Linked DNA regions of Homo sapiens. The protein of the gene in region 6 purifies or fractionates together with the protein of the main gene of each other region. This does not show direct contact. Each region holds a gene or a part of one and is shown on either strand. Other genes may lie near its edges. The genes, in order: KIF1C, ZBTB4, RBM34, TNRC18, RBM28, PRDM5 and ZFP91.

Region 1 (4,209 bases), on a different chromosome or scaffold from region 6:
GGAAGGAAAGTCAAGGTCAGGTATTCCCAGTCCCTGCCCATACCCCAACCAGCCCCTGGAATCCAAGCATCCCACTCCTCACCACTGTCCTGACTCTTCTCTCCCCTTTAACATTCCCCACCCCCTCCAGCCACCAAAGCTAATTTTGGCTTCCTAGGACCCGCCCCCACTGAGCTGCCTCCCTGGATTGGGCAATGGAGGGCTCCAGGCCAACATTCCCCCTCCCAGGGACTGGGAACACGGGAAAGGCCAGCCTGCCCCAGCCCCCGCCCTTACGACTAGCACCTGCTCTGTGCCCAGCATTACCCTCCTCTTAGTTTGGCCCAGCGGGACTGGCCTGTGTGGTGGGCCCGGCCTTCCCTGCCTGTGCCCAGCCAGGCCCCGGGGACTCACTCACAGGTGGTGTTGCCCTGCATGCTGACCACACACTTGGCATCCTGGCTGGTCTCACGGGCGTTAAAGGGCCGAACCCTCACTGCCACTTTCACCGAGGCACCAGCCATAGCTCCAGACACTCCTGCCCTCCTCAGCTGGAGGACAGAGAAAGGAGTGGTGGGGTCAGAACCACTGCAGGGACCCAGACATTGCCTCCCAGCTTCTTCCCGGAACCAGTCTCTTCACATCTCCCCCAGAGCCACCCAGCCTCTCAAGGACCCAGCTCTTATTCCCTTGGCTTTCCTCCCAAATGTCACTGTCTTGAGAGACTCCCAAAGGTATTTCTGCCTCTCTCCCCAGCCATATTCCAGCTTGCAGGAACCTGGGCGGTCTCCCCCAGTTACCTGGCGTCCTGGCCCCAGACCAGGGGGGCTGTATCAGTTCTGGCTGCCACCGGCCCTCGTAGGGGGAGCCCCATCCTACTCCTGGGGCCTGGCCACACCAGCTGGGGCTCTGGGAGATACCCTGATTGCGGGGGAAGAGTTGTTAGAAGGCACCTGTGGTTCCAGAGACCCGTCTGGGGTTCCCAGGTTGGAGGGCCAAGGTTACGGGGGGAATAGCAGGAAAAGTACGGACAGCTGCCCCTCTAGAGTGGCTGAATGCAATGTGAATCCAAGGGCAGGGACGGTGATATTTTTATTCCTTGTCACTCGCAAATGTACTGAACGTTCAGATAGAGGACAGAGAGAGAAAGAGGCTGGACAGAGGGCAATTCAGAGAGAGGGGCACATGGGCAGAGACGTGAGGGGGGTGGGAAGAGAGAGAGGAGGGGCAGAGAGTCACAGACACCAAGAAAATTAGAGAAATAAGACAAAAGGCAAGCCTGAGGTCATGCTATGAAGGAAAGAATGGGAGAGGAAAGGAGGAAGAGACACAGCACAGCAAACACACGGTGTTAAAGAGACAGGGTGGGGAACTCCGGCGCCAAAGCACAAACTGGGAGCCCAGAAGAGAGACCAGAGAGGAAACTGCAAATGCAAAACCTGTCCTCAAATTCCCCCACAGTGTCGGCAAGGGAGAATCTAGTTTCCACCTGAGGCCCACAACCTCCATGCACCAGGCCAGTAGTGCAGATGGGCAAAGTCCAAGGACTGTAGGTAGGGCCCAGGACTGGGATCCACAGGGCCAGCTGTGTGGGCTCTAAGCCCCTTGCCCAGCCCCCAGCACTTCCTCCTCAGGATCCGGGACAATGAGCAGGGGAGGGTGGGGTCATCCTGTAGCCATCAGACCAACCCTCAGGGCTCCACCCTTGGGGCGCCCAGAAATACCTGTGTTTGAGGGTAGAGGGTCCCTGGGGCCTCCCTAAAAGGGAGAAAGAAAAGGAAGCCGGCTGGCTGGTGCCAGCCCCAACCTGGGGCTAGTGCTATGGCGTCCACTGCCCTGGGGAAGGTGCCAGGCTGGAGCCCAGGAATGTGGGTGATCGGGTGCCCACACCCTGGGAGGAGAGGCTGAGCAGCCCACGCCCACGGACAACAGGGAGGAGGACCACGAAGGATAAGGGATGCGGAGCCCCCTCCTGTGGCCCCAGTGGACCCCAAACTCCTGTCACGCTGGGCCTCCCCTCACCAGTCTTCCTGGGCAGAGCATGGGAGGGTGAGGGGCTGGTCTGTCCCAGGACAGGAAGGGAGTAGCTGGAATCACAGAAGCTGGCTCAGGAAGAACAGCCCTGACCCCCTAGACCCTGACCAGGGGAGGGAAGGACACTGGTGGGGACAAGCGATGGTGACGCCGTTGCTGCAGCTAATGGGACAGGGATGGGGTGGCACGGCTGGGGGCCAGCGGGGTAAGGGAATAGAGGTAGGGACAGGGGTCGGCCGGTGCAGCTGTGAAGGAGCCGTGGGGTACAAGGAGGATACTGGGCGGCTGGGGTGGGGCCGACCGGCCCGAAAGGGGGTCTTGGGCCACCTGCACCTTGCCCACCCGGCGGTTCTCACACAGGTCCCCGCCCGGCCTCTCAGGGCGGCCATGCGGACCCGTCCTCCTGTCCAGCCAGCCGGCGGCCGCCCGGGCCTGGCACCTCTCTGCGCCTCCGCGGAACAAACAGCACATGATCCCGACTCTTGAGCCTAGATCGCGCCGCCGGACCCCGGCTCCCCGCCCCCCAACCCGGCACATTCCTCCGCGGGCGTCCCTTCCCTCCCCCTTCCCCAGCCCTCACCTCGGCGCGGCGGGGCTCCCGGAGCAGCTCGGCGGAGAGGGACAAGCTTTCCGGGAAGCGTGAGGCGGAAGCGGGAAGGATCTGGGGCCGGTTCGGAGCTGCCCCCGCCCCTCGCCGGGTGCCCGGGCGGCGGGCGGCGGACTCGCGCCCCGGGGGCGGCAGCAGTAGCGGCGCCAGCGGCCGGCGCCCGCCCGGGCAGCGCGAGCTGGGGCGGGAGCGAGGGGCGGGGGACGCGCGAGCGCGCGCGGAGGGGCGGGTACGCGCGGTCCCGGGAAGGAGCCGGGAGCGACCCGGGCTACTCTTGTTAAAGGGGCAACGCTCCTGGCCTGTGGGGCCCAGCGAGCGGGAACGTGGGGACCGAGCTGCGGACGCAGAAGGGCGAGCAGACGCCGCAACCCAGGAGGGTTGCAGACGCCTGAAGAACAGGGAAACGTCGGGGGCTGACCCGCGGGGGCACCCAGGCCCCGGCCCAGTTCCCGTCGCCGCCGTTGGAGGCGCGTCCAGGGGGCGGAGCCTCCTGCCGAGGCCCGCCCAGAAGGTGGCTCCGCTCAGGCCCCGCCCTCAGACGAGCACCGCCCGCCGGCTCCTCCCGCGGCTCGAATCGCCGTCTCTCTCCTCCCCGCCCCGCCGAGTTCTAGAATTCGCCGCGCAGCTGCTTCAGGTGCTGGGGCCAAATGCGGCCGGCCGTGGCGCGGCTACTCGGGCGCTCTGTCCCCGCCTGGCCCTCAAGTTCGGCCGCCCTGGACGCCGCCTGAGGCCCAAACAACCCCTTCAGGCCCGGGTGCCGCCTAAGGCCGGAGCTGCCCTCTCAGACCCGGGGCGTCCCTCAGGCCCCAGCCTGCCCTTCAGCCTGGGCCCACCACCTCAGGGCCCCTCTCGAGGGAAGCAGCCCCCAGTCGTGCCCTCGGGCGGGGCTGCCCGGAAGGTCCGGCCACGCCCGGTCCACCTGTCGAGGGTCCCCGTCGCCCTTTCAGGCGCAGGCCGCGCCCTCCGGCCCGGCGCTTCCCTCCAGCGGGGCTCCAGGCAGCCCCTCAGCCCCAGCCGGACCCTCGGGTCCTCATCCACCCTCGCAGGCGCAGGCCGTGGCTACCCCGAAGTCAACTGTGGAGGATCCTTCCTGGCTTCCTTCAGCTCCATCCTGCCCTTGGATCTAGGTCACCCGCTTGGACCCAACTATCTGAGGCCCGAATGCCCCGCAGCTCCCGCTGCTCCCTCGCGTTCTGCTGACCCCCCTCCGAGTCAGGACATCCCCTTTAGACCCCACTTTAGGCCCTTTCAGCCCAACTCCAACTAGCCCCATCTGCCGCTTCCGCACGGTATACTTCTCTCCGCTTTTGACCTCACCTGCTTTCCCAGCCCATCCCTAGTTCCCTTGGATAAATACTAGTTCACCTCTACAGTTCCAGCTGGCTGCTTCTGTCCTTCGGGAGCCTATGTGCACTCTCTCCTAACTTATCTAGTATTCTTTTTTTTTTTTTTTTTTTTTTTTTGAGACGGAGTCTTGCTCTGTTGCCCAGGCTGACCTCGGCTCACGGCAACCTCCGCCTCCTGGGTTCAAGCGATTCTCCTGCCTCAGCCTCCCGAATAGCTGGGATTACAGATGCCTGCCACCACAC
Region 2 (4,508 bases), on a different chromosome or scaffold from region 6:
TGAGAGGATCATTTGAGCCCAGGAGGTTAAGGCTGCAGTGAGCCTCAATCTCACCATTGTACTGCAGCCTGGGCAACAGAGCAAGATCCTGTCTCAAAAAAAGATAAATAATTGACCAGGCTCTGTAATCCCAGCACTTTGGGAGGCTGAGGCGGGCAGATCACCTGAGGTCAGGAGTTTAAGACCAGCCAGGCCGACATGGTGAAACCCCATCTCTACTAAAAATACAAAAATTATCCGGGCCTGGCCAGGCGCGGTGGCTCATGCCTGTAATCCCTGCACTTTGGGATGCCGAAGTGGGCAGATCACAAGGTCAGGAGATGGAGACCATCCTGGCTAACATGGTGAAACCCCGTCTCTACTAAAAATACAAAAAAAAATTAGCCGGGAGTGGTGGTGGGTGCCTGTAGTCCCAGCTACTCCGGAGGCTGAGGCAGGAGAATGGCGTGAACCCGGGAGGCGGAGCTTGCAGTGAGCCAAGATCGCACCACTGCACTCCAGCCTGGGCGACAGAGCGAGACTCAGTCTCAAAAAAAAAAAAAAAAAAAATGGTGGCGCGCGCCTATAGTCCCAGTGACTCGTGAGGTTGAGGCAGGAGAATCTCTTGAACCCGGGAGGCGGAGGTTGCAGTGAGCCAAGATTGTGCCACTGCACTCCAGCCTGGGCGACAGAGCTAGACTCTGTCCCCCGCCGCAAAAAAAAAAGAGAAGCAGTTGGGCCAGTTTCAGTGGCTCATGCATGTCATCCCAGCACTTTGGGAGGCCGAGGCAGAAGGATCACTTGAGCCCAGGAGTTCGAGACCAGCCTGGCCAACATAGAGAGATCCAATCTCTACTAAAAATAAAAAATAAATTAACTGGGCATTGTGGTGTGCACCTGTGGTGCCAGCTACTAGGGACGCTGAGGTGGGAGGTCATGAGAGCCTGGGAGGTTGAGGCTGCAATGAACCATGATTGTGCCACTGCACTCCAACCTGGGCAACGGAGTGAGACCTCATCTCAAAAAAAAAAAAAAAAAAAAAAAAAGAATGGCCAGGTGCAGTGGCTCACTCCTATAATCCTGGCACTTGGAGAGGCAGAGGCGGGCAGATCACTTAAGGTCAGGAGTTCAAAACCAGCCTTGCCAGCATGGTGAAACCCCACCTCTACTAAAAATACAAAAAAATTAGCCAGGCTGGGCGCGGTGGCTCATGCCTGTAATCCCAGCCCTTTGGGAGGCCAAGGCAGGTGGATCACGAGGTTGGGATTTCAAGAACAGCCTGGCCAAGATGGTGAAACCTCGTCTCTACTAAAAATACAAAAATTAGCCGGACGTGGTGGCAGGCGCCTGTAATCCCAGCTACTCGGGAGGCAGAGGCAGGAGAATCGCTTGAACCCAGGAGGCGGAGGTTGCAGTGAGCCCAGATCGCACCACTGCACTCCAGCCTGGGCGACAGAGCTGGACTGTGTCTCAAAAAAAAAAAAGAAAAAGTGTTACTAAGTGCCAAGGAGCAAAATAAAGTAGGGTCGGGAGATAGGAAGTTTTAGAAGGTGGGGAGTGGCCAGGGAAGGCCTCAGGGGAAGGTGGCTTCTAAGTCAAGGCTTAAAGGAAGTTGGGGTTCACTGCATGAGGCTATCTGGAGGAAAGAACATTCCAGCCAGAGGGAACCGCAAGATGTAGGGCGTCTCTGGTGTCCATGCTCAGATCCCCACCTCAGTGGCACATCTGAGGTCACACAGGCACTGAAGAGTAGAGAAATGGTAAGAACAAACAAATAAAAAACTCTAAAACCACAGAGCCACCAAACCTACCAGGAAGCCCAATTTGTGCCTTTTTTTCTTCACTACTTCTCCCCACCATTTTCCAGGACTGAGTTCTACAAACTAAATATTGCCAGTTGTTAGCTCATTTAATCTTTACAACAACCCCACAAGGTAGGAACTATTAATTGTCCCCACCGTATGGACAAAGAAACAGATACAGAGAGGTTAAGTAACCTGCCTGGGGTCACATAGCTAGTCTTTTCCACTTCCTATAAGGCCTTGCAGGGCAGTAGCCAGGATAGGGCAGTTTAACTCAAGCTGCGTCCAAACGCTGGGTTGGCTAGCAACAAAACCAGAGGCAAATAACCCCATCACTACCTACCTTCTACCTGAAAGGGAGGAGTTTAGAGTATTTGATTTCTCTAAGCCTGTTGTCTCACTGGCCATTTTGAGTGTTGAAATGAGATGATACAGATAAAATGCTTAGCATTATACTTTGCACATCATAAGTATTTCAAGCCTGGGCAACGTGGCAAGACCCCATCTCTACAAAAGTAAATAAATAAATTAGCCAGGCATTGTGACATAAGCCTATGGTCCCAGATACTCCGGAGGCTGAGGCAGGAGGATCATTTGATTCCAGGAGGTCCAGGCTGCAGTGAGCAATGTTCACACCACTGCACTCCAGCTTGGGCAACAGAATGAGACCCTGTCTCAAAAAAAAAAAATTTTTTTCATAAATGGCAGCTACAGAGACCATGATGACAATGATTGTGTGTGATCTTAAGGGCCAGTCCAGCATTGGGTGTCTCTAGTTCTAAGAAGCCCTGACAGGTCTCGTCCAAGTACTGTGGTAGTCAGCACACGGTCACACATGCATAGCCCACCACATATGGTTGTGCAGGTTGGCAGGCCCAGCCAGTGGGGTGAATGGGGACTGGAGGCAAAGCTTGACTTTGCCCACCTACACAGGGCTGCTACCTCCTGGAGGAAAGAACCTTGCTTCTAATTTTCAGAAAGGCACCCAGGTAGGATATTTGTGCCCTAGTGGGTGCCATAAACACGTCCTTCGTTAATATATGGTGAAGTCATCAGGAACACAGGCTTTGGAGCCAAACTTCCTGGGATCAGATCCCAGCCCTGCTACTAGCTGGTCATACGTCCTTGGGCCAGCTACCTAGCATTGATAAGCCATAATCTGACATTTTATTTATTTATTTTGAGACGAAGTTTCATTCTTGTTGCCCAAGCTGGAGTGCAATGGTGCAATCTCGGCTCACTGCAACCTTTGCCTCCTGGGTTCAAGTGATTCTCCTGCCTCAGCCTCCTGAGTAGCTGGGATTATAGGTGCCCACCTCCATGCCCTGCTAATTTTTTATATTTTAAGTAGAGACGGTGTTTCACCATGTTGGCCAGGCTGGTCTCGAGCTCCTGAACTTCAGGTGATCCATCCACCTCGGCCTCCCAAAGTGCTGGGATTACAGGCATGAGCCACCATGCCCAGCCTATTTTATTTTTTTGAGGCAGGGTCTTGTTCTGTCACTCAGGCTGGAGTACAGTGGCATAATCATAACTCACTGCAGCCTTGAACTCCTGGGCTTAAGGGATGCTCCCACCTCAGCCTCCTGAGTAGCTGGAACTATAGGTGCACACCACCACACCTGGCTAATTTTTGTATTTTTTGTAGAGACCAGGTTTCTCCATCTTGCCCAGGCTGGTCTCGAACTCCTGAGCTCAAGGGATCCACCTGCCTCAGCCTTCCAAAGTGCTGGGATTACAAGTGTGAGCCACTGCACCCAGCCCATGGTCTGTCATTTTATTTATTTATTTATTTTTTGAGACAGAGTCTCGTTCTGTCACCAGGCTGGAGTGCAGTGACGCAATCTCGGCTCACTGCAACCTCCGCCTCCCGGATTCAAGTGATTCTCCTGCCCCAGCCTACCGAGTAGCTGGGACTACAGGTGCCTGCCACCACGTCCGGCTAATTTTTGTATTTTCAGTAGAGAGAGGGTTTCACCATGTTTTTCAGGATGGTCTCAATCTCTTGACCTCGCGATCCACCCGCCTCTGCCTCCCAAACTGCTAGGATTACAGGTGTGAGCCACCGTGCCCGGCCTATTTTTTATTTATTTTTATTTTTATTTTTTGAGACAGAGTCTCACTCTGTCACCCAGCCTGGATTGATCTCCATCCAGCGCGATCTCGGCTCACTGCAGCCTCTACTTCCTGGGTTCCAGCAATTCTCCTACCTCAGCCTCCCAAGTATCTGGGATTACAGACACCCACCACCATGCCTGGCTAATTTTTTTTTTATTATTATTTTTAGTAGAGATCGCCACATTGGCCAGGCTGGTCTAGAACTCCTGACCTCAGATGATCCGCCCGCCTTGGCCTCCCAAAGTGCTGGGATTACGGGCATGAGCCACCGTGCCCGGCCTTAAAGAGGGAAAGTGGCCAGGCATGGAGGCTCACGCCCATAATCCCAGCACTTTGGGAGGCCTAGGTAGGCAGGTCACAAGGTCAGGAGATCAAGATTACCCTGGCTAACACGGTGAAACCCTGTCTCTACTAAAAATACAAAAAATTAGCCAGGCATGGCGGCGGACGCCTGTAATCCCAGCTACTCAAGAAGCTGAGGCTGGAGAATCGCTTGAACCTAGGAGGCGGGGGTTGCAGTGAGCTGAGATTGCACCACTGCATTCCAGTCTGGGCGCAGAGCGAGACTCCATCTCAAAACAAATAAATAAAATTTAAAAGGAGGGAAAG
Region 3 (4,292 bases), on a different chromosome or scaffold from region 6:
AGACAAGTTCAACTATAAAAATGGCAGCACAAGGAAAAACTGAAAGGAAATGTAGTAATGGGTTGTTACTGAGAGAAGAAAAATTTATGACATCACATAGTATGTACAGTCAGCTCCCCAAATCCGTGAGTTCAGTATCAGAGGATTCAATCAACTGCAGATAGAAAATACTTGAAAACAACAAATAATATGACAATAAAAAAATTTATTATATATAACAATATACATTCATGCAAATGTGCCATTTTATATAAGGGACTTCAGCATCTGCAGATATATATATACTGTTTGCTATGTGAGAGGGATCCTGGAACCAATACACCGTGGATATCAAGGGATGACAATAGATTATTTTTTTGTTTTGAGATAGGGTCTCACTCTGTCAGTTCGGCTGGAGTGCAGTGGTGCAATCATGGCTCACTACAGCCTTGACCTCCCGTACTTAAGCAATCCTCCAGCCTCAGCCTCCTGATAGGACCACAGGCGCTGGCCACCATGACCAGCTAGATTTTTATTTTTTAATTTTTCTTTCTTATTTTAAAACAGGGTCTCACTCTGCCATCCAGGTTGGGTGGCTCACTGCAGCCTCGACCTCCCAAGGTTCAGGTGATCCTCCTACCTCAGCTCCTCAAGTAAATGGTACTACAGGCATGCACCACCACGCCCAGCTGATTTTTGTATTTTTTTGTAGAGGCGGGATTTCGCCATGTTGCCCAGGCTAGTCTTGAACTCCTGGGCTCAAGTGATCCACCTGCCTTGGCCTCCTAAAGTGGTGGGATTACAGGCGTGAGCCACCGCACCCAGCCTTACTTGTATATTTTTTTGTAGAGTCGGTGTCTACCTATGTTGCCCAAGCTGGACTTGAAGTCCTCACGTTAATCAATCCTCTCGCCTCAGCCCTCCAAAGTGCTGGGATTACAGTCACGCGTCAACATGCCCGGCCTGTATATTCTTTTACTCCTTAATATTGTCAGGCATGAAACACTGGTTAAAAATTAGCGAACTAAATATAACTAATTTTGTACAAAGAATAAAACTTTCTTATACCTTAATGTCAATTATTTACTCTATCATACAGAAGGTAGAGAAGATTCAGTGATTTAGTACTTCTAATATCCAGGATCAAAAACATTTAATTAGTATGAAGAAAGAACTGGGACATCTTTTGGATAGGTGCAGTTGTAGCAATATATTATGGCAGGTTATAAATTCAGTTCTCGTTTTCGGGTTTTTTTTTTTTTTTTGAGACAGAGTTTTGCTCTTGTTGCCCAGGCTGGAGTGCAATGGAGCAATCTCGGCTCACCGCAACCTCTGCCTCCCGGGTTCAAGCGATTGTCCTGCCTCAGCCTCCCAAGTAGCTGGGATTACAGGCATGTGCCACCATGCCCAGCTAATTTTGTATTTTTAGTAGAGATGGGGTTTCTCCATGTTGGTCAGGCTGGTCTCGAATTCCCGACTTCAGGTGATCCACCCGCCTCGGCCTCCCAAAGTGCTGGGATTACAGGCATAAGCCACCACATCTGGCCGGTTTGTTTTTTTTTTTTTGAAACGGAGTCTTGCTCTGTCACCCAGGCTGGAGTGCAGTGGTGTGATCTCGGCTCAATGAAACCTCTGCCTCCCAGGTTCAAGTGATTCTCCTTCCTCGGCCTCCCAAGTAGCTGGGATTACAGGTATGAGCCACCACATCTGGCTAATTTTTAAATTTTTTGTATTTTTTTTTTTCCCCCTTGAGATGGAGTCTTGCTCTGTGGCCCAGGCTGGAGTGCAGTGGCACGATCTCGGCTCACTGCAACCTCCACCTCCCGGGTTCAAGCGATTCTCCTGCCTCAGCCTCCTGAGTAGCTGGGATTATAGGCACCTGCCACCACACCTGGATAATTTTTGGACTTTTAGTAGAGACGAGGTTTTACCATGTGGGCCAGGCTGGTCTCAAACTCCTGAGCTCAAGAGATTCACCCGTCTCGGCCTCCCAAAGTGCTGGGATTACAGGCATGAGTCACTGCACCTAGCCCAGTTTTCTTAAGATGGAATTTGAGAATGGAAGTGAAAGTTATGTCTCAATGATGACATGCAACAGTGTCAATGCCTCCCAGGGCACTTCGAAGGACAGTGACAATGCATTAGTCTCCCATACCTCAAAGAGCACATAGCCAAACCCTTTGCCGATGCCTGTCATTTTGTCTCTCACAATCCTCACGGCCATGATACTTCCACAGTCCAGAAAGTGCTTCTCAATGGCAGATTCTTCAACTTCTGAAAACAAATTCAATCAAAATGGAAGTAAAGAGTTGGGAGCCCCTCAGAAACATGGAGTTGTTTAATAATACAGCTAGTTAAGCATGGTCCCATGAAAATAAGCCATTATATTGCACACTTTTTAGTACATGTGCTGCCACGGCAAACACATTGCATGCTTTAAAATTAGTCTTAAATCAAAACATTAAGTTACTACTCAGTTCTTATTTCCTTGTTATTTATTTAGTAATATTAACTGTACTTTGTTTAAACAAACTTACTATAAGGGAGATTCCCCACAAAAACCGATCTCTTGTCTCTCTGAAACAAAAAGACAGTTAATAAAAATCACTCACTAGACCAGAAAATGGAAGTCATCGAAAATCCTCCCTATCCCTCCTTCCCCCCATATCTGACAGGTCACCCATCTTCTAATTTAACCACACATCATGTTCTTTGATTCTGTTTCTTCTGTCTTCCCTGCTGGACTGTGTGTGGGTACCAGAGGAGGGGAGTGACCTTTTGTTCACAGCTGGCACTGACACACGGTAGGGATCAGGAACGGACTGCTATATTGGGAGCATGCCAACTTTTTCTGTAAAGGGCCAGATAGCAAATATTATAGGCTTGGCAGGCCATGTGGAATCTGCTGCAACTACTCAACTCTGCCATTATACCTTGAGAACAGCCCTTGGATAATACACAAATGAATGGATGTCGCTGTGTGTCAAAAGAAAACTTCATTAACAAAAAAAAAGCAGCACGTAGATTTGGCTCTCTGCCATAGTTTGTTGACCCTGTACTGGGTCCCCAAGTCAAGCCAGGGCTTTCATCCAGGTCGTTGTCATTTCTCCACTAAGTTCCTTTGATATCGACAGAAATGCACTCTATGTTTCTGTGGGTGAACTGTTATAACTGTCCTTCATTCATTTCTAGGCACCTTTGTCAAGTCCAAATCTGGTCATGTCACTCTTAGTTTAAATTTTTAGAATAGCTCCTGAACAAAATCCAGACTCCTCTGTGTGAAGCACGGTAGACAAGGTCTTCATGATTTGGCCTCTGCCTATTTGTCCAACAGCAACTCTTACATACCTCACCCACCTAATAATTGTACCAAGCTCTTGCCATCTCCTGAGTGAATTAGTTTCTGTCCTCACCATTTATACTGTTTTTCCTCCCAGACATGGCCCTCAGCCTTTACAACACTTTTGGTCTACATAAGCCTTCTCTTCTTTCTTTTTTCCCCCCGCTTCTCCACAGGGTAAGGTCTATCTCCTCATCTTTCAAGACTATTATGAAATTTATTCCCCTGGAAACTTGCCTTGTCCCTTCTTCCTGGCATATCCCCAAGTCAAGTGTCCCAATGCTGAGCTGACAAATCATCCTGTGCATTGATGATAGTACTTATACAACAGTGACATGACCTGTCACTCCAACCCTAACATATACTGTCAGCTCCTAGGAAGTTGAGACTATGTCTTAGAACTGCATCTCTGACAGAGTGTGTACTAAAAACTGTCTAATGAATAATTGAACTTTCTAGACCTCGGTCTATAATGTGTTAGACCAGATGATGTCTAATGTACCTTCTGACCTAATTATGCTTATTTGAAGAGGACTATGTTTTTGTTTCTTTTTAAGAAACAGGGTCGCCCTCTGTTGCCCAGGCTAGAATGCAGTGGCACGACTACAGCTCACTGCAGCCTCAAACTCCTGGGCTCAGGTGGTGCTCCCACCTCAGCCTTCTGAGTAGCTGGGACTGTCGGCATGCATCACACACTTGACTAATTTTTTTTTTTTTTTTTGTAAAGGCAGGGTCTTGCTACATTGCTCAGGCTGCTCTTAACTCCTGGGCTCAAGTGATCCTCCCGCCTTGGCCTCCCAAAATGTTAGGATTACAGGCATGAGCCATTGTGCCCAGCCAGGACTACGTTTTTGAAGGGAATGTTGACCTCGGTCCTTGTGCCTCTCTTGCCATCAACTCTGTAACCACAGAGGACATAGGCTGTTTCCTTCTGCGCTTCCCTCACATTGCTGATTCCAGTCCCCTTCCAGGA
Region 4 (4,508 bases), on a different chromosome or scaffold from region 6:
CCCACTCCCCAGGCAAGAAGACGCCCGCGCCCCAGCCCCAGGCGCCTCCTCCGCAGCCCACACAGCCTCTGCAGCCCAAGGCTCAGGCCGGGGCCAAGAGCCGACCCAAGAAGAGAGAGGGCGTCCACCTCCCCACCACCAAGGAGCTGGCCAAGCGGCAGCGCCTGCCGTCCGTGGAGAACCGGCCCAAGATCGCCGCCTTCCTGCCAGCCCGGCAGCTCTGGAAGTGGTTCGGCAAGCCCACCCAGGTGAGCAAGCTCGCGCCCGGGCACGGCCGAGGGGCCGGGGGCCTTGTGTCTCTCTGCTGGGCCCACGGCTTCATGCTGTGTCTCCGTGTGTGGTAACCTCCCAGAACCCCAGGGTGGAGGGCTGGCGTCCCACTTTATGGATGGGTACACTGAGTCTCAGAGTGTCCTCAGGCACCTGGGTCTGTCGGACTCCGATGCCCGAGTCCTTCAGAGCAGAGTGGTCCTGCCCTCTGGTCCCGGGACGCAGAGCCACCCTCGTGGAGCCCAGATGAAGGAAACGTGCAAAGATCAGCACAGACCCACAGGCGTCGGCGCCACGTGGAAGGGGCTTTCCAGGCCTCTGGGATTTTTTCCTTTTTCTTTTTTTGAGACTGAGTCTCTCTCTGTTGCCCAGGCTGGAGTGTGGTGGTGTGATCTTGGCTTACTGCACCCTCTGCCTCCCGGGTTCAAGCAATTCTCCTGCGTCAGCCTCCCAAGTAGCTGGGATTACAGGCGCACGCCACCACGCCTGGCTAATTTTTGTATTTTCAGTAGAGATGGGGGTTTCCCCATGTGGGTCAGGATGATCTCAAACTCTCCTGGCCTCAAGTGATCTGCCTGCCTCGGACTCCCAAAGTGCTGGGATTACAGGTGTGAGCCACCACGCCTGGCTTTTTCTTTTCTTTCTTTCTTTTTTTTTTTTTAAGAGACAGGATCTTGCTCCGTCACCCAGGCTGGAGTGCAGCGGTGCCATCGTGGCTCACTGCAGCTTTGAACTTCTGGGCCCAAGCAGTTTTCCCGCCTCAGCCTCCTGAGTAGCTGGGATTACAGACATGTGCCACCATGCTACCCAGCTGATTTTTAAATATTTTTGTAGAGACAGTGTCTCACTGTGTTGCTTGGGCTGGTCTTGAACCCCTGGGCTCAAGTGATCCTCCCGCCTCAGCCTCCCAGAGTGCTGGAATTCCAGGTGCGGGGCCTGACAGCCTGTTGTGTGTGGCATTTGAGTGTTCCCAGCCACGCCCCGGGCTCCTGGCCACTAGTGTGGCAGTCCCAGCAGAAGGTACCTCCTTCCCAGGTTTGCTAGCAAAAGTCCAGATTGAAGCTCCTTGGCCTGGCCAGGATCATGTGCCCACCCCTGAGTGAATCAATATGGCCTGGAAGACAAAGTCCTGGCTGGCCAGGTCGGGGTCCCGTGTGCCCTGCCTGCAGCAGTGGGTTAGCTGTTCAGAAGGAGCCCTTCCAGCCTGCCTGTGGCTGTCTACACACACGCACACACACTTGCACACAGTGCACTCAAAAGCATGGGCACATGCACACACACACGCACATATGTGTGCACATGTACACATGAATGCACATACAGCCACACACAAAAGCAAGTATACACACATGCAGATGTACATGTGAATGCAGGCACGTACATGAACCATGTAAACATGAACATGCACACATATGCAAATACACTACACCCACACAAATGCACACTTGCACACGTACACAAACGTAGGCACATACATGCGTGCACGTGCATCCATGCACGTGCATGCACACGAGTACACGTGCACACACACAAACACGTGCACACACGAACACGTGCACACACATGAACACGTGCACAAATGCACAGATGAACATGTGCACACACAGGCACATATACATGGCAGGACCCAGTGTGAGAAGTGGTGGTTCAGACAGGCTGGCAGGGAGCCCCCAACGTGCTGTAGGTGTGGGGCAGGAGCACCTGCATGTTCCAGAAGGGGTCAGTGGTGTCTCAGGCAGCATTTCCAAAGCTGCTCTAGAATGGAGTTTCAAGTCTCTCTTGCCCAGGTGCAGTGGCTTAAGTCTGTAATCCCAGCACTTTGGGAGGCCCAGGCGGGAGGATCACTTAAGCTTGGGAGGTCAAGGCTGCAGTGAGCTGTGATTGTGCCACTACACTCCAACCTGGGCAATAGTGTGAGACCTTGTCTTGAAAAAAATAATAGTTTTAGCCGGGCGCAGTGGCTCACACCTGTAATCCCAGCACTCTGGGAGGCCCAGGCAGGAGGATCACTTGAGGTCAGGAGTTCGAGACCACCCTGCCAACATGGTGAAACCCCGTCTCTACTAAAAATACACACACAAAAATTAGCCAGGCGTGGTGGTGCACGCCTGTAATCCCATCTACTTGGGAGGCTGAGGCAGGAGAACTGCTTGAACCTGGGAGGCAGAGGCTACAGTGAGCCAAGATCGTGCCACTGCACTCCAGCCTGGGCGATAGAGTGAGACTTCATCTCAAAAAGAATAATAATAATAATAACTATTTTTTAAAAGATAAAAAAGGCCAGGTGTGGTAGCTCACGCCTGTAATCCCAGCTCTTTGGGTGGCTTATGTGGGAGGATCACTTGAGGCCAAAAGTTCAAGACCATCTTGGGCAACATAGTGAGACCCCCATCTCTACAAAAATAAAAATATTAGCCGTGGATTCCTGTAATCCCATCAACTCAGGCGGCCGAGGGAGGAGGATGGCTTGAGCCCAGGAGATCGAGGCTGCAGTGAGCTATGATATTACCACTGCAGTCCTGCCTGGGTGACAGAGCAAGACCCTTTCTCTGAAAAAAGTAATTTTCAAAAGAAAAATAAGGCCAGGTGCAGTGGCTGACACTGCGATCCTAGTGCTTTGGGAGGCAAAGGTGGGAGGGTGGTTTGAGGCCAAAAGTCTGAGACCATCCTGGGCAACATAGTGAGACCTTGTTCTCTACAAAAATAATCAAAATTAGCCGGGCGTGGTGTGCGCCTGTATTCTCAGCTCCTCAGAGGCTGAGGTGGGAGAGGATTTCTTGAGTCTAGGAGTTCGTGGCTGCAGTGAGTCATGATGGCGCCACTGCGCTCCAGCCTGGGCAACAGAGGGAGACCCTGTCTCAAAAATAAGAAGTCTTGTAGCGGCAGAATGCTTAGATCAAGGGAAGCGCCTCTTGGAGACCCAGCATGTCAAAGAGATGGAAGAGGGGCTTCCCCACTTGAAGCGAGACAAGGAGCTTCCTCATCTCCCCACAGTTGGATAGGGGTTGATTTAGAGGCCGAGGGCCCAGAGTCCCAAGCGGCAGAGCCTGCCAGGCGGCGGGCTCCTTGGGGCTGGGCCAGGGCCTGTGCCGTGACACACGTGTCCTTGCAGCGGCGTGGCATGAAGGGCAAGGCCCGCAAGCTCTTCTACAAGGCCATCGTGCGCGGCAAGGAGATGATCCGTATCGGGGACTGTGCCGTGTTCCTCTCTGCCGGCCGCCCCAACCTGCCCTACATCGGCCGCATCCAGAGCATGTGGGAGTCGTGGGGCAACAACATGGTGGTCCGCGTCAAGTGGTTCTACCACCCCGAGGAGACCAGCCCGGGCAAGCAGTTCCACCAGGGCCAGGTGAGCCTGCGGCCCGGCTGCGGCCCCCAGTCCTAGGCGGTGTAGGGCAGACCTGAGGGCGAGGCGTTCTGGGTGCTGGAGCATCAGCAGCCCTGCCCAGTGGGTCAGCCCTGTCCTGGGGCCTGGGGTCGGGTGCAGCAGCCCCCGGGCTCACCCAAGCCCCTCCTCTCTCCCCCACACAGCACTGGGACCAGAAGTCCAGCCGCAGCCTCCCGGCGGCCCTGCGGGTCTCCAGCCAGAGGAAGGACTTCATGGAGGTAGGTGGTGGTGGTGGTGGTGGTGGGCGGGTTGGGGATGGCTGCTTCCTTCCGGGCAGCTCAGACAGGGCCCGGCTCAGCATCTGCTGCTCTGTCCCCCATGGTCTCCCTCAGCCTCTGACCTCCTGTCCCTGCCACTCTCAGTGCCTGGCTCCTGTTCTCTGTCTCTCTGGTCTGTGCGTCTGTCTCTGGGTCTTCTCTGCTCTCCCAGTGTCTGTCTCTGAGTCTCTGGCCATTCTTGCCCTCTGACTCTCTCTGGGTCTCTCCCAACCTCTATCTTTCAGTCTCTGTGTCTCTCTGGGTCTCTCTCGATCTCGGTCTCTGTCTCTCTGCGTCTTTGGATCTCTTGGTCTGTCTATCCTTGTCTCTCATTTGCTCTCCATCTCTCGGTCTCTGTCTCTCTTTTGTTGGTCTGTCTCTTACTCAGCCTCTGTCTCTGACTTGGTCTCTGTCTCAGTCCCTGGGGCTCCCTCTGCTTCTGTCTCTGTCCCTGTGGCTCCCTGGGGCTCCCTCGGCCTCTGTGCCCCCCACCTGCCATCCTGATATCCCCGCGTGCCCGCAGCGCGCGCTATACCAGTCCTCGCATGTGGACGAAAATGACGTGCAGACGGTGTCGCACAAGTGCCTGGTGG
Region 5 (4,508 bases), on a different chromosome or scaffold from region 6:
GTGGTGTGCACTGTAGTCCCAGCTGCTCGGGAGGCTGGGGCAGGAGGATTGCTTGAGCCCAGGAGTTTGAGGCTGCAGTGAGCTATGGTTGTACCACTGTACTCCAACCTGGGCAACAGCGTGATACCCTGTCTAAAAAAATAATAAAAATAAAAAAGGATTAAACCCTTTACTTGACCAGCTTCTTTTCCTGCTACCCCTGGACTAACTAATCATTACATATTTTTGTAGTTGTTTTTTCTTTCTTTCTCTCTCCTGATCTACCACAAGCCAAATGTACTCATATACATACTAATAGGTGAAAAAAGAGAGTCTGAGGAGTGAATACATTTATTTTGTGATTTCCTAGGCAGTAGCTAGGACTCCCTTAGAGGTTGCTAATAGGGAAAGGGTGCGCTGGCTCTACTCAGTTTTATAACTGCTTTTCCCCGAATTCTGCAGACATCTTCATTCCCCTGGAGGTCAGATAATGGCTATTTATTTTCCATAGCCATGAAAATCTCTGGGGAGAGCTGTGGCAATTTGACGAGAGCTATTAAAGGGACATTAGGATTGAAGTAGCTGCTCAGGCAGTCACATACCCTCGATCCTCATCTGCAGGGACAGCTGCCAGAACGAATGAGCCCAGCTCTCCTGCCCGCAGCCAGCCGCGTGTGGGTGCAACTGGCGACCAGCCACTGGAGTGAGTCCCAGGGAAGGGGACAGGTTCTTAGAATCACCATTTGTCTCTGCTCTCTCCCTCTCTGCAATAGGACGGGCACTCTAAACTCACATAATGGTTAATAACAACAGCTAACAATTACTGAGCACCTACTATGTGTCAGGCATGTGCTGAGGATGATCGCATCAAGTAAAATGCCTGTCTCTGGCCCAGAGGCCCAGAAGAAGAGAAAGAAGGGAAATCTGTAGGAGGCAAACAGTCCCTTACCCCTCTGCTTGCAGACCTTCAGTGACAGGACACTCCCTGTTTGCTCCAAGCACCTCTTGCATTTTCAGAGCTTGGGACACAGATTCAGGGACTTGCACTTCGATAGAGTGCCTCAGGACCCCTCGTCGGAGCCATGGAAAGTCAGTTTCTGGGCCCATCCTTCCTGTGGGGGTGTCTTTCCTTCTCTTGGCCACCCCCTAGGAATCCCTAGTAGAGAGCAGGCACTTAATAGCCAGTGCAGTGAGAGTGGTCTGTGATGTCTGGGCCAGGGCAAGGCCCGCCAAGTGGGCTCCCAGGTGCCTGCCACAGAGCCTCTGGGGTTTGAGGCCCTCAGTGACCCTTAGGCAATAGCTGGGTCTTAATGAGGGATCATGTCCTTTCCTGGGTAGTCGTGGGTAGAGGGGTGTGAACTGATCTGAGCTACTCTAGGAAGGCTAGAGACAAAAGCAGGAACCAAGAGAAGGGCTGAGGCTCCTTCCAAGAGACTCCAAGTCCTGAGGGCAAGAAGCGGAGAGCCTTGTGCCAGGCCAGGTGTTGCCCCTGTCAGTGCTGACGGACAGGCAAGAGAGGCTGCTGATGCTGCAGCCCTGTGAAGCTGAGACTCACCCTTTGCCCACTTTCACAGCCATCTCCCCAGGAGGCTGTGGTGACACAGGTAAAAGCCAAAGGACAGAGGATGACCCTGGACAAATCACTCAGACCCTCCAGTCCTCTTTGCTCATTTATAAAATACAGGCAAAAAGCCCCCTAGTACTAAATGAAATAGCCACTGTAAAAGAGCACGGGAGATAGGGTCTGTGATGTCTTTTGTCCCCAGTGTCCTGAGTGAATTCACAGGAAAGGGGAGAAAGACTGGTTGCCCACTTCCAGGGTGATTGGCTAATTTCCACTTCTTTCCTGCTAGGGATGGGAACACACGCCAGAATCCTGGGAAGGCTACATGTCCTCAGGTGGTGCTGGCCCCACCTCCAGCCTCTGCAGGGATACCAGGATATGAGCCAGGCTCTGCTCCCGGGGTGACCCATCCTCCTCAGTGCCCCTTCTTTCCTCACAACTGCAGGCAGAAGGAGAGTGTGTCCTGTCTCTCTGAGGAGCTGGCTGTGCCATTTAAGCAGGCCCTAGGGGTGGAGCGCTGTGAAGAGATGGCACCCAGGTCCCTGTTCCTCCTTTTCCAGAGCAAACACTGCTAAGGGATCATGACAGTCCCTGCATCTGGCCCAGACTGGGCCTTGGGAGGCTTTTGACATCAATCCATGCAACCGCACCCAACAATTGGAGTCAGCATGGGAGGTGAGACCCACTTGCCAATTTTGCTCTCAGGGAACAGCCCTCTTTACTAAAACATAGCACAGTATTGATAACAGTTGTTTCCAGGCATCGTAGAAAGCGTTTAGTGGGCATTAACGTCTTTGATCCTCACCACAAGGTCAGGGGTTGGATGATGTTAGCATGCTCATTGAAGGATCAGAAAAGTCAGGCTCAAGATAGCTCGCCCTTCATTCAGCCAGCCGGTGTTAACTGAATATTAACTGTGCACCCGTCTGTGCCAGTGTTCCCCCAGGAGCTGCAGAGGGTCCTGAGCAGAGTGAGCTCAAGCCACTTGGGAGCTCACATTCCAGCTATCAGTGCTGATTCATCTCAAATGTTTGATCCACGCTGGGTTCTAACCCTTCCCTGCTCAGAGCCCTCAGAGTCCAGGTCAGGTAGAACCCAGAACAGAGCCTCTGGCAGGAAGGAGCTTGCATGGTCCTCAGGCTTCATGTCCAGAGATCATTCCTCCACTTTGAGCTTCTTTGTGAAAACCAATCACAAAGAGAGGAGGGGTGAAATGTGCCAAAGCCTCTGCCAGGGTTGTAGCAAGGAAACCTGGGCTTCTAGGGAAAGTTGAGAAAGGGCCTATATTAGTCAGGAGGGCTACTGTAAGAGAGTACCACAGGCTGGGTGGCTTAAACAACAGAAATTTATCACCTTACGGTTCTGGAGGCTAGAAGTCTAAAATCAAAGTGTTGGCAAGGTTGGTTCCTTCATGAGGAATTTCTTGGCGTTGCCTGGCATATAGATGCATCACTGCAGTCTCTGCCTCGTTGTCACATGGCCATCTTCTCCCTGTGTCTATAGGTCTATGTCCAAATTTCCCTCTTCTTATAAAGACACCAGTCATATTGGCTTAGGCCCAGCCCAATGATTTCATCTTAATTTGATTACATCTCTGCTATGGTTTGAATGTGTCCCTTCCAAAATTCAGGTTATTGCCAATGTGATAGTATTGAGATGGGGTCCTTAAAGAAGTAATTAGGCCATGAGGGTGCCTCTCTCTGAAGGGAGGCTCATTGGATTGTATCAGTGTAACATAATTTACATAACCAGTTCTTTATGTGATGGAAATCCCATTCAACGGTTTCCAACCTTTGCTATTACAAACTGCTGTGAAGAGAAACATATGTCATTATACTAATCAGGTGCTGTTGTTGTTTTTATAATGCATTATCCTGGAGAGACTGCCCCTCCCAGGGCTAGCTACTTTGGGGAGAGAGTAAACAACTTGGTCGAGCGTGCCTTTCGTATGCAAACCAGTCAATCCAGAGCCCACACCCCCAGTCACCTCCTTTATCAAACTCTGACACAGCAAGCCAATATTCCCCCTGCCCTAAATCACTCCAGGGCCAGGCATGGGACAACTAGGGACAATCCCTATAGCCAGGGCCTGCCAAAGTTATACAGATTAGCCAATCCTAAGCCTGCTTCCCTGCCTTGCCTTGCCTTTCTGCTGGAAACTACATTAAAGGCGCTGGATCGTGCTTTTCCCTCACCCCCTCTGCTTCTTGGCTGACCCAAGTTCTTCCTGTGTGGCCCTGCAAGGCGTGACACACCTCTCCTCCTGGGAACTGCATAACAAACTCTTCTTGCAGAGATAGTTTTCTCTGTGTCTGTCATCTTACCATACCTGATGAAAACAAATATGGGTACATTTTTTTTTTTTTTTGAGAGAGAGGGTCTCACTCTGTCTCCCAGGCTGGAGTGCAGTGGTGTAATCACAGGTCACTGCAGCCTCGACCTCCTGGGCTCTAGTGATCCTCCCACGTCAGCCTTGCAAATAGCTGAGACTACAGGCACACACCACCATGCCTAGCTAATTTTTGGTGTATTTGTTATAGAGACAGAGTTTCGCTATGTTGCCCAGGCTGGTCTCAAACTCCTGAGCTCAAGTGATCCACCCACCTTAGCCTCTCAAAGTGCTGGGATTATAAGTGTGAGCCACAGCATCCAGCCATGGGTACATTTTAAAGCAGGCGTTTTGTTCATGTGCAGCCCTTGTTCTCAGTTAAGGGGAAAATGAGTGATCCTTTGCTTGGCTCTGAAGGAGCAGTGTTTTATATGTAAAGAATATATTCTGTATATTTAAAGAAGAGCAATGGGGGGCATTTGAAAATAAATCCGTTCATTTTTTTCTGATTGTAAAAATAATATATGCTCAGTAAAGAGAATCTGAAAAATACAGAAGTATTGGGGGAACCCACCCCCAATATTTCAACATAGGTTCTTTCTATTTTCCATAAGTGTCGGCCGACTGAGAAATAAA
Region 6 (4,508 bases):
TTACAAACTTTAATGAGTAAAAAAATAAAACTTTACAAATGCATATACCTACTTTCTCACTTTTAACAATTTCTGATCCTGTAAAATATTTAAATAAAGATAATTTTATGTTGTTAATATAAATTGTTAAAATAAAAAAGGGTACAGAGCTATGTGTGGGATCATCTAATTAATCATATTGTTATAACTGGGACCTATGCATCTTTAAATTATTCCTCCAAAGTTGCTCTCAAATAAACAGTGCTTCCCAAAATGTCCAGGAATTCTTTATACTTTGAACTCCCCATTTCTTAAACTTTTTTTTAAACAGATTCCAGAAGGAATATAAAACGTAGACAACTAAAAGTCTGTTACCTCAAAGGAGTAACTAAAGTAGGCATATCTGAATTTCAGATTAAACCAGTAAGCTTGATACATAATGGCAAATTAATAAATGGACAAAAACTAATTACCATAAACAGTGTTTATGTGTTAAAATCCATAATTTGAATATTTTAATAATCAACATACTATACTAAGAAAAGATGAGTTAATGACAATACCAATGTAAAATGCTTAATCTCTCATTCACACACAAAACATGCGCGTGCGCGCGTGCACACACACACACACAGGTTAAAAACTATGAGTTAAGCTGAATGGAATAAACTGTGTTAGCTTATAATTTTAAAGATATTTCTTTAATATACGCACTGTCTTTGCAAAGCCTGCTTAACTGGGAATTTCTTCCCACAGTTCTTGCACTTAAATTCTTTCTCCTCTGTGGGTTTCTGGTGCAATGTCTGGAGATGCTCAGCAAGAATATCCTCACTGGTAAAACTCGATTCACATTGAGGACAAGCATAGTCCTCTTTACAGCCAAGGCGATCTGCACATTCACAAGGAAACATATTCATGAGACAAAAATTCAGAGCCAAGAAATGCTCAGTTTTGCTCTCATTTTAAATTAATTAATTAATTGTGCTTAATGATACCATATGAATAAATTCTTATTATCACTATAAATATTAATAGTATTTGGCCACAAAAAAATAATAGCAAGTGTTACTAGAGAGAAATACATTATTTTCAAAATCACTTGTATTTCACCAAATTAATACAAAGTCAAATTCCTTATTTAATTCATCCTATAATGTTAACTTTTCAGATCAAAATGTTAAATTAGAAAACAAAAGCTATTCCTGAAATTGGTCATTTTTAGCTCATTTTTACCTTCACAAGGAGAAAAATCCAACTGATGCAAACTATATTGAATTACCAAGGAGAATCTCACATACATGTGAAAAAAGACCAAGGTCATAAAAACAGTGCTGATTAAGCTAGTAGAGTGAATTATGCTACACGGTCCCATATAGACTGGTGCAGGTCTGACCAAATTTCTCAGCGTGCTATTTAAATTACACATTTGTTTCTGATTATAAAATAAAATTAGACTTAGAAAATGCAGAAAATAAAAAACACCAATAATCCCATCAGGAAGAGACAACTGTCATAATATTACTGGCAAGCCTGACTTGCCTTTAGTGCATACATATTTTATGCGCAGTCTAAGAAGAGGTAAATTTGGGATCATACTTTATATACAATTTTATATGTTTTCCCATTTAACATCTTCTCAAGTCAAATGTTGGCATATTTTTAAACTTAAAGTACCACAATTTATTTAACCAAACTCTTCATTGTTAGACATTTGGGTGGCTTGTTTCTTTTGCTGTTTGTTTTTATTTTGTTTCTTTGCTTTTCTAAATAAAACTAAGAATTCTAAAATAAAAATAGCCATGGCACATGGCACATGGCACATGTATACATATGTAACAAACCTGCACATTGTGCACATGTACCCTAAAACTTAAAGTATAATAATAATAAAATAAAATTTTAAAAAAACCAAAATAGCCACAATGCAAGTGCTTGGTTCATGTGTTTAAAAAATTCTGTTTAAGTTTCTGTTGATTCTTTTTACAAAGATAATGAAAACTGGTATTTTAATAACTAAAGCAGAAATCAGGGCAGTAATAGGTAAGTAGATTACTTATTTTTAAATTAAAATAATGGATAAAATAACTTGCCCTGGGGACAACAGGGAAAAAATAAAATACAAAAACAAAGAAAACACAGAATAACACAGAAATAATTCCCATCACCCAAAATATGATATTCCAAATAGCATAATGCATATAAGCCTGTCCTTATCTTCCCCTTAAATAATTCAACTAAAATAAAGAAACAGAAGCATAAGCTGGCAATGGTGACAGAATGTTCACACTTTCTCAGCCAATAACATGCAGTTAGAACAGAAAAAGTACAGGAAAAGCATACTACCACTTTGACTAATGAAACCAGTATCACTTCTGAAGTGGCTTTGCTACACAAAATGGAAAAGTACTGTATAGTAAGTATCAGCCTGCTATGGTCTGAATGTTCGTGAATCCCCAAAATTCATACGTTGAAACTGAAACCGCAATGGAATTGTATTAAGAGGTGGGCCCTTTAGGAGATGATTAGGTTATGAGCACTGTGTCCTCATGTATGGGCTTAATGCCCTTGTAAAAGAAGCCCAAGAGAGCTTGCTTGTCCCTTCTGTCACATGAGGACACAGCTAGAAGGTGCTATCTAATTAGAAACGGGCCCTCACCAGACACCAAATCTGCTGGCACCTTGATAGACTTCCTAGGCTCCAGAAACGTAAGCAATAAATTTCTGCTGCTTACCAAGTATCTAGTCTAAAGTATTTTGTTATAACAGCCTGAAAGGATAAAGACGAGGCCTATTACAAAATGTGAATACCTATAGCATCATTCATATATCCCTTAAATTTCCCTTAGGAGTAAAACACAACATAATAGAAACAAGGCCAATAATAATTGATTATTCCCTGGCAGTTAACAAGCAAGTGGCTGCAGTATTGACTGAGGAAGGTCTGACCTACGGTCACTGAAAGTTTTTGGTAACCACACTAGGGCAACCTAGCAATCCTCCAGGCTTCTGTGATCAGAACAGAAAGAGATGCCAAGAAGCTGCAGGTTCCCAAAAGATCCCAAACAAGAGGAATCAATCCCCTTCGGATCCAGCAGGCTCTCTTGTGTACCTCACCTCCACTCTCACCTTTTCCTATATGCAGATGAGAAAGTAAAGTCTCAGAAAGTCAGCAACTTGCCCAACGTTACAAGACTGATTAGTGGCAGAGCTATGGCAAGACTATAAAAATCCTCACTACTCATTACCCCAATGCGCCAGTGAGAGCAGTGAGAGCCGGGAGCTGCCCTAGCAATGCAGCCCTGCCTGCGGCCTAGGCAGTCCTATAGGGTACATCCATCACCCACTCCCAAAATACTTTTCCTGCTGTAACAAAGATGAGTCCACCACAGGATACCCTCGAGAATAATTTTGACAAAAACTAACTTTATTTGAGAATGCCATATTACAAGGCAACTATAATTCAACCACAGTTTAAACTACACTTTTTTCTACAACTTTTCTTCTCCCAGATCACCAATTAAAGATGCAATACCTTTTCTGCCCGCTGTTGATTGTCTTCTAGAATTTTCAACTTCCCCTTCTTTGATGACTGTCATAATTTGCTGTTCTTCCTCCTCAGCCTCCATGTCACTATCCAGGTAGCCAATCAGAAGCTCCGTGTCTGTTTCTATATCTTCAACTGCCAAATAGAAAATGTTTTCTCCTTCCTGAAACAAATTTTTTTAAATGCTGAACCATTCATTTGTTTCTGATAGTAATTAAGAAATAATTTTAAGATACATTAATGGAGTACTATGTGTGCATGAAAAGTTATTACTTTTTTTTATTTCTAGTTGATCTGGGTGCTGAAAAAGGCAGGTGACAATATTCAGTTACCTGGCAAATAAAATACAAATACATATGACAAAAAGTGACATTTACACATGTCAAATGAAATTATGTTCAATTTTTAAAGTGAATTTTGCATCACTAACTGGCCTTATGCAAGCAACACTTTGTGGTGGCCTATAAATGTAGTTGTCATGCAACAGTGTCATTCACACATGCAGACAGAGAGCAATGAGATATCAATGATTTCGTTATTATTAACACTAACACAAAACTTAAAAAAAAAAAAAGCCTTTCAAGTTCTAACACAAACCAGAGGAAGTGCAAATAAGTTCGTCCCCTGAAAGAATTTACTGAAACCTGGTCCCGAAATAGAAAAAATACTAGACATCTGGGAAGTTCAAGGTGTTGATGGAGCCATCATGTGTACCTCACCTCTTTGGTCTCTAAATCCCACAGAAATGACAGACACGAGAAAAAGAAAAAAAAAAAAAACAAGGTCCACCATCAACATATCAAGATATTTTAGAAAGTCCTGGAAAACAGAAATCAGACATAGTCGAAATAATAGATAACTAATGCAGAGGAAACCTCGACCAATAACAGACACAGAAGAGGAATGCTACAAAGAACCTTCTTTCCAAGGAAACCCCAGAGAAACTTCACACTTGGAATCAACTGATACAAAAGCCATGCTGGGC
Region 7 (3,059 bases), on a different chromosome or scaffold from region 6:
CTCAGAGGAGGTAGCAAATTCCTGGCTGTGGATTTTTGTGCCTGTGGAATCAAAGGGCCCTTTTTAATCAGATTTTTTTTCCCCTGCAGCGTCTGCCTCCATCTCTCTCCTCCACTCAGTACTTAGCACACTTGTTTCTATGTCATTGTTTTGCTTTTGCACTTAGCAACAAGGTCACTATCATACCAATCCTCATGGCACCCCTGCCTAATGTAATCTATCTCACACACTTAGAATTAGTTCATTTTATTATCATTCTCCCTTATGCTTCCCATGTCTTTTTTCTCATAGGCTGGCGAAATGTTCATTCAATAAAATTGTTATTGACACAGCTGCCATTTATTAAGTATCTACCATGGGTCAGTCAGTAAGCTAAATACTTTAAAGCAATTCCATTTGATCTTCAGAATATTTCTGAGGTAAATGTTATTTCTCCATATAAGAAACTGAAACTTCAAGAAATAACATGCACAAAATCAAGTAACGAGGCTTGAATTTAAATAGAAGTCTGATTCTATAGTTGTCTCTCCCACTGACTTTCCAATTTCATTTTCTGTTTAGGTAGTTCACATCTTGTTCAAGAAACAAAGGGTGTGTGAAGTCCTTTAAAAACAGGATTTTTTTCACTCCTAACCTTACGTACTTTTTAAAGGTAATTTAATTTATACTTAAAAATCAAGCAAGGAAGCATCTCTAATTTCAATCACGGTGCCTTCCTGGTAGCTACATAGGAGGAGGAAGGTACTGTTTAGGCCTGTTCTCTTCCAAAGAACAGGAAACACCCAACGCTAACTTGGTAACATTTCTAAAGCAGTCTCACTCAAGTGACAACATGCTTTCCTTTTTTCTCCCCTACCCAGTCATACCACATGCTTCTTAAAATAAGAGAATGAGCTGGGCTTTGAAATGACAGTATAAAAGTTAAAAGGTACTTGGAGGGTTGTCATTCTATTGCATTTAACTTAGAAAATGATGCTTATTGGGTAAGGGCTAAATGAAATAATTAGCTTTCATTATTTATATCATAGATATTGCCAATAAGCTGAAACACATACCATCTTAGAAGCAAATTTATAAAAGTAAACAATAAATGGGAGATGTAACAGAGCAGCCTGGGCAGCTATCACAGCATGGCTTTTGGAAGGCAGAAGGATTATAGTTTTTTCTTTTTTAAAATAAAAATCAGTACTTGATATAAACATTCAATTTTGAGAAGAAGTATTAATATTAAATGCTATCAAGGTTTTGTCATTATCAGGGTAAAATTAACCTCACATAATCCTTAATTTTCCATCTACTAGGTTAATTAACATATGGCCAGTTTTCCTAGGAGGCAGTTGTCAAAACATCAAGATTTCCAAGTTTGCTGAATAACAGAATCATGTCATTTCAGCATTAGAAATCAAGAACAGTCAAAAATTAACCACCTGATTCTCAACAAAAGCAAACAATAGTATGCCCCACATAACACCTGTTCTGAGGGCATTTGGTTTGCTTAGCAGCATCACATGTTTCACCCCTAGGATAACTGTAACTCAGTACAACCAAGGAAGACAAGTTGCTTCCATGAAGACAACTTTTATTTTTCTTCTTTACATATTTATTTTTAATATGCCTTACCTAGAATAAGAGAAAACAAAGATTTGAAAAGCAAAGTATCCCTTTTATTATAATTTCTTTTTACATAACCTTTTCAACCTATATTCAGGTAACTACCTGTCTCTCCCATGAAAGGAGAAGGGTCCTGCACATTACAACAGGCAAAAAAGGCTTTTAAGAAATAAAATATTTTAAATTGATCCATTACATTTGTTCAATTTTCTTGAGTACATTGGAAAGTGGGAAAAACACAAAAGGAGAAAAAAATGGTATTTCAAACAACCAGACTATAATAATCTTAGTTAGATTGGTAGTACACTCATTATACTTTTTCCCCAAACAGGTACAAAGGAGGTTCAAGTGCTCTATGTGGATGCTAGTCTATACCTCGATATTTTTATTTTACTCCCAGTACTCCCACGGCCATGGCCAGTGTTTGCCTAAATTCTCTGAAGCATATCAAGGAGTCTCAGTTACGCAAAACAACCTTGGGCAACCACAAAGAAGAGGGATGCACATCTCCCAGAAATATTAAATAGCTGTATCTCAACTACAGTTTCAGAATTTAGAACCACCAATTCAAGATGGAAATATGCAGTGGGAAGAGTTATTAAAAAGGTAACAGAATTTGACTAAGAGCATGAAATGTAGAACTTTAAGATTAAAAGAGCTCCCTGGAAGGACAATGAGGCATATGGAGCAGAAGGGAAAGCAGGGAAACGGCTGAGATAGTTTAATTACACCAACTCTACTATGCAGCATCCCTTTATCAAAAGGAAAAATATAAAGTCTATAAAAAATATTTTAGTATTGCAAACTGCTGCAATAATTTATTGTAGGCAAATGGTAGCTATAAAGAGGGTCCTTGACCCCTAAAAGAAAAGAAAAAGTACAGCAAGTTTCTAATTAGTAGAACTAACTAGTTGTTTTTTTGTTGGGAGAGCGGTATAGGAAAGGAGAATACATTTTCTCCCATCTCAGAAAGATTTTTAAAAATGCAGTTTGCTTTTGTGTAGGTGGCTAAAATATCTGATGACTAACCACTGCAAATGAAATTTACGGAGACAAAGGATAAGTGTGACAAAAAAGCTAAGTGTGGAATATAGATGCTAGTTAGTCAAAAAGTGTAAAAGGGACCTGAGAGGAGGACAACTTTTTTGTAGATTCATCTAATCAATCTTGTATTTTCAAATCTAGTCAATATACCAAAGTCGACTCCAAACCATGTTGGCAGGAAAGCATATTCTACATCCCTTCTATCTTTATTCCATTTTCTATCCCCATATTATGGAGAAATGGCAAATCTGCAACACTCTGAAAAGAAACAATAGCGCATTTGAGACTGGTGATTGTAGGTGTCTCACTCTCTGTTCCCTGGCATCCCAAATGCTGACACTAGTTGGTATAAAGTAAGCCTCTTTCAGAAATGACATTTTGTTACTCCTCTTTTTGGGAAAAAA

The links.
Region 1: the proteins of PRDM5 (region 6) and KIF1C purify together in Homo sapiens (affinity purification with mass spectrometry; one large-scale study listed by BioGRID and IntAct). This does not show direct contact.
Region 2: the proteins of PRDM5 (region 6) and ZBTB4 purify together in Homo sapiens (affinity purification with mass spectrometry; 2 studies listed by BioGRID and IntAct, with this or other methods). This does not show direct contact.
Region 3: the proteins of PRDM5 (region 6) and RBM34 purify together in Homo sapiens (affinity purification with mass spectrometry; 2 studies listed by BioGRID and IntAct, with this or other methods). This does not show direct contact.
Region 4: the proteins of PRDM5 (region 6) and TNRC18 purify together in Homo sapiens (affinity purification with mass spectrometry; 2 studies listed by BioGRID and IntAct, with this or other methods). This does not show direct contact.
Region 5: the proteins of PRDM5 (region 6) and RBM28 purify together in Homo sapiens (affinity purification with mass spectrometry; 2 studies listed by BioGRID and IntAct, with this or other methods). This does not show direct contact.
Region 7: the proteins of PRDM5 (region 6) and ZFP91 purify together in Homo sapiens (affinity purification with mass spectrometry; 2 studies listed by BioGRID and IntAct, with this or other methods). This does not show direct contact.

What each region holds. Positions count from the first base shown.
Region 1 is NC_000017.11:4,996,541-5,000,749, reverse strand, and holds the start of KIF1C (kinesin-like protein KIF1C), read right to left. Parts: upstream 2,801-4,209; 5' UTR 2,594-2,800; intron 1,738-2,593; exon of another isoform or gene 1,704-1,737; intron 901-1,703; 5' UTR 780-900; intron 531-779; 5' UTR 504-530; coding exon 398-503; intron 1-397. UniProt on the Homo sapiens protein: Motor required for the retrograde transport of Golgi vesicles to the endoplasmic reticulum. Has a microtubule plus end-directed motility.
Region 2 is NC_000017.11:7,469,152-7,473,659, reverse strand, and holds part of ZBTB4 (zinc finger and BTB domain-containing protein 4), read left to right. Parts: intron 1-4,508. UniProt on the Homo sapiens protein: Transcriptional repressor with bimodal DNA-binding specificity. Represses transcription in a methyl-CpG-dependent manner.
Region 3 is NC_000001.11:235,133,518-235,137,809, forward strand, and holds part of RBM34 (RNA-binding protein 34), read right to left. Parts: intron 2,557-4,292; coding exon 2,517-2,556; intron 2,254-2,516; coding exon 2,135-2,253; intron 1-2,134.
Region 4 is NC_000007.14:5,308,243-5,312,750, reverse strand, and holds part of TNRC18 (trinucleotide repeat-containing gene 18 protein), read left to right. Parts: coding exon 1-248; intron 249-3,382; coding exon 3,383-3,619; intron 3,620-3,801; coding exon 3,802-3,876; intron 3,877-4,438; coding exon 4,439-4,508.
Region 5 is NC_000007.14:128,298,418-128,302,925, reverse strand, and holds part of RBM28 (RNA-binding protein 28), read left to right. Parts: 3' UTR 1-4,508. UniProt on the Homo sapiens protein: Nucleolar component of the spliceosomal ribonucleoprotein complexes.
Region 6 is NC_000004.12:120,817,660-120,822,167, forward strand, and holds part of PRDM5 (PR domain zinc finger protein 5), read right to left. Parts: intron 3,687-4,508; coding exon 3,512-3,686; intron 869-3,511; coding exon 694-868; intron 1-693. UniProt on the Homo sapiens protein: Sequence-specific DNA-binding transcription factor. Represses transcription at least in part by recruitment of the histone methyltransferase EHMT2/G9A and histone deacetylases such as HDAC1.
Region 7 is NC_000011.10:58,619,546-58,622,604, reverse strand, and holds the end of ZFP91 (E3 ubiquitin-protein ligase ZFP91), read right to left. Parts: 3' UTR 1,055-3,059; downstream 1-1,054. UniProt on the Homo sapiens protein: Atypical E3 ubiquitin-protein ligase that mediates 'Lys-63'-linked ubiquitination of MAP3K14/NIK, leading to stabilize and activate MAP3K14/NIK. It thereby acts as an activator of the non-canonical NF-kappa-B2/NFKB2 pathway.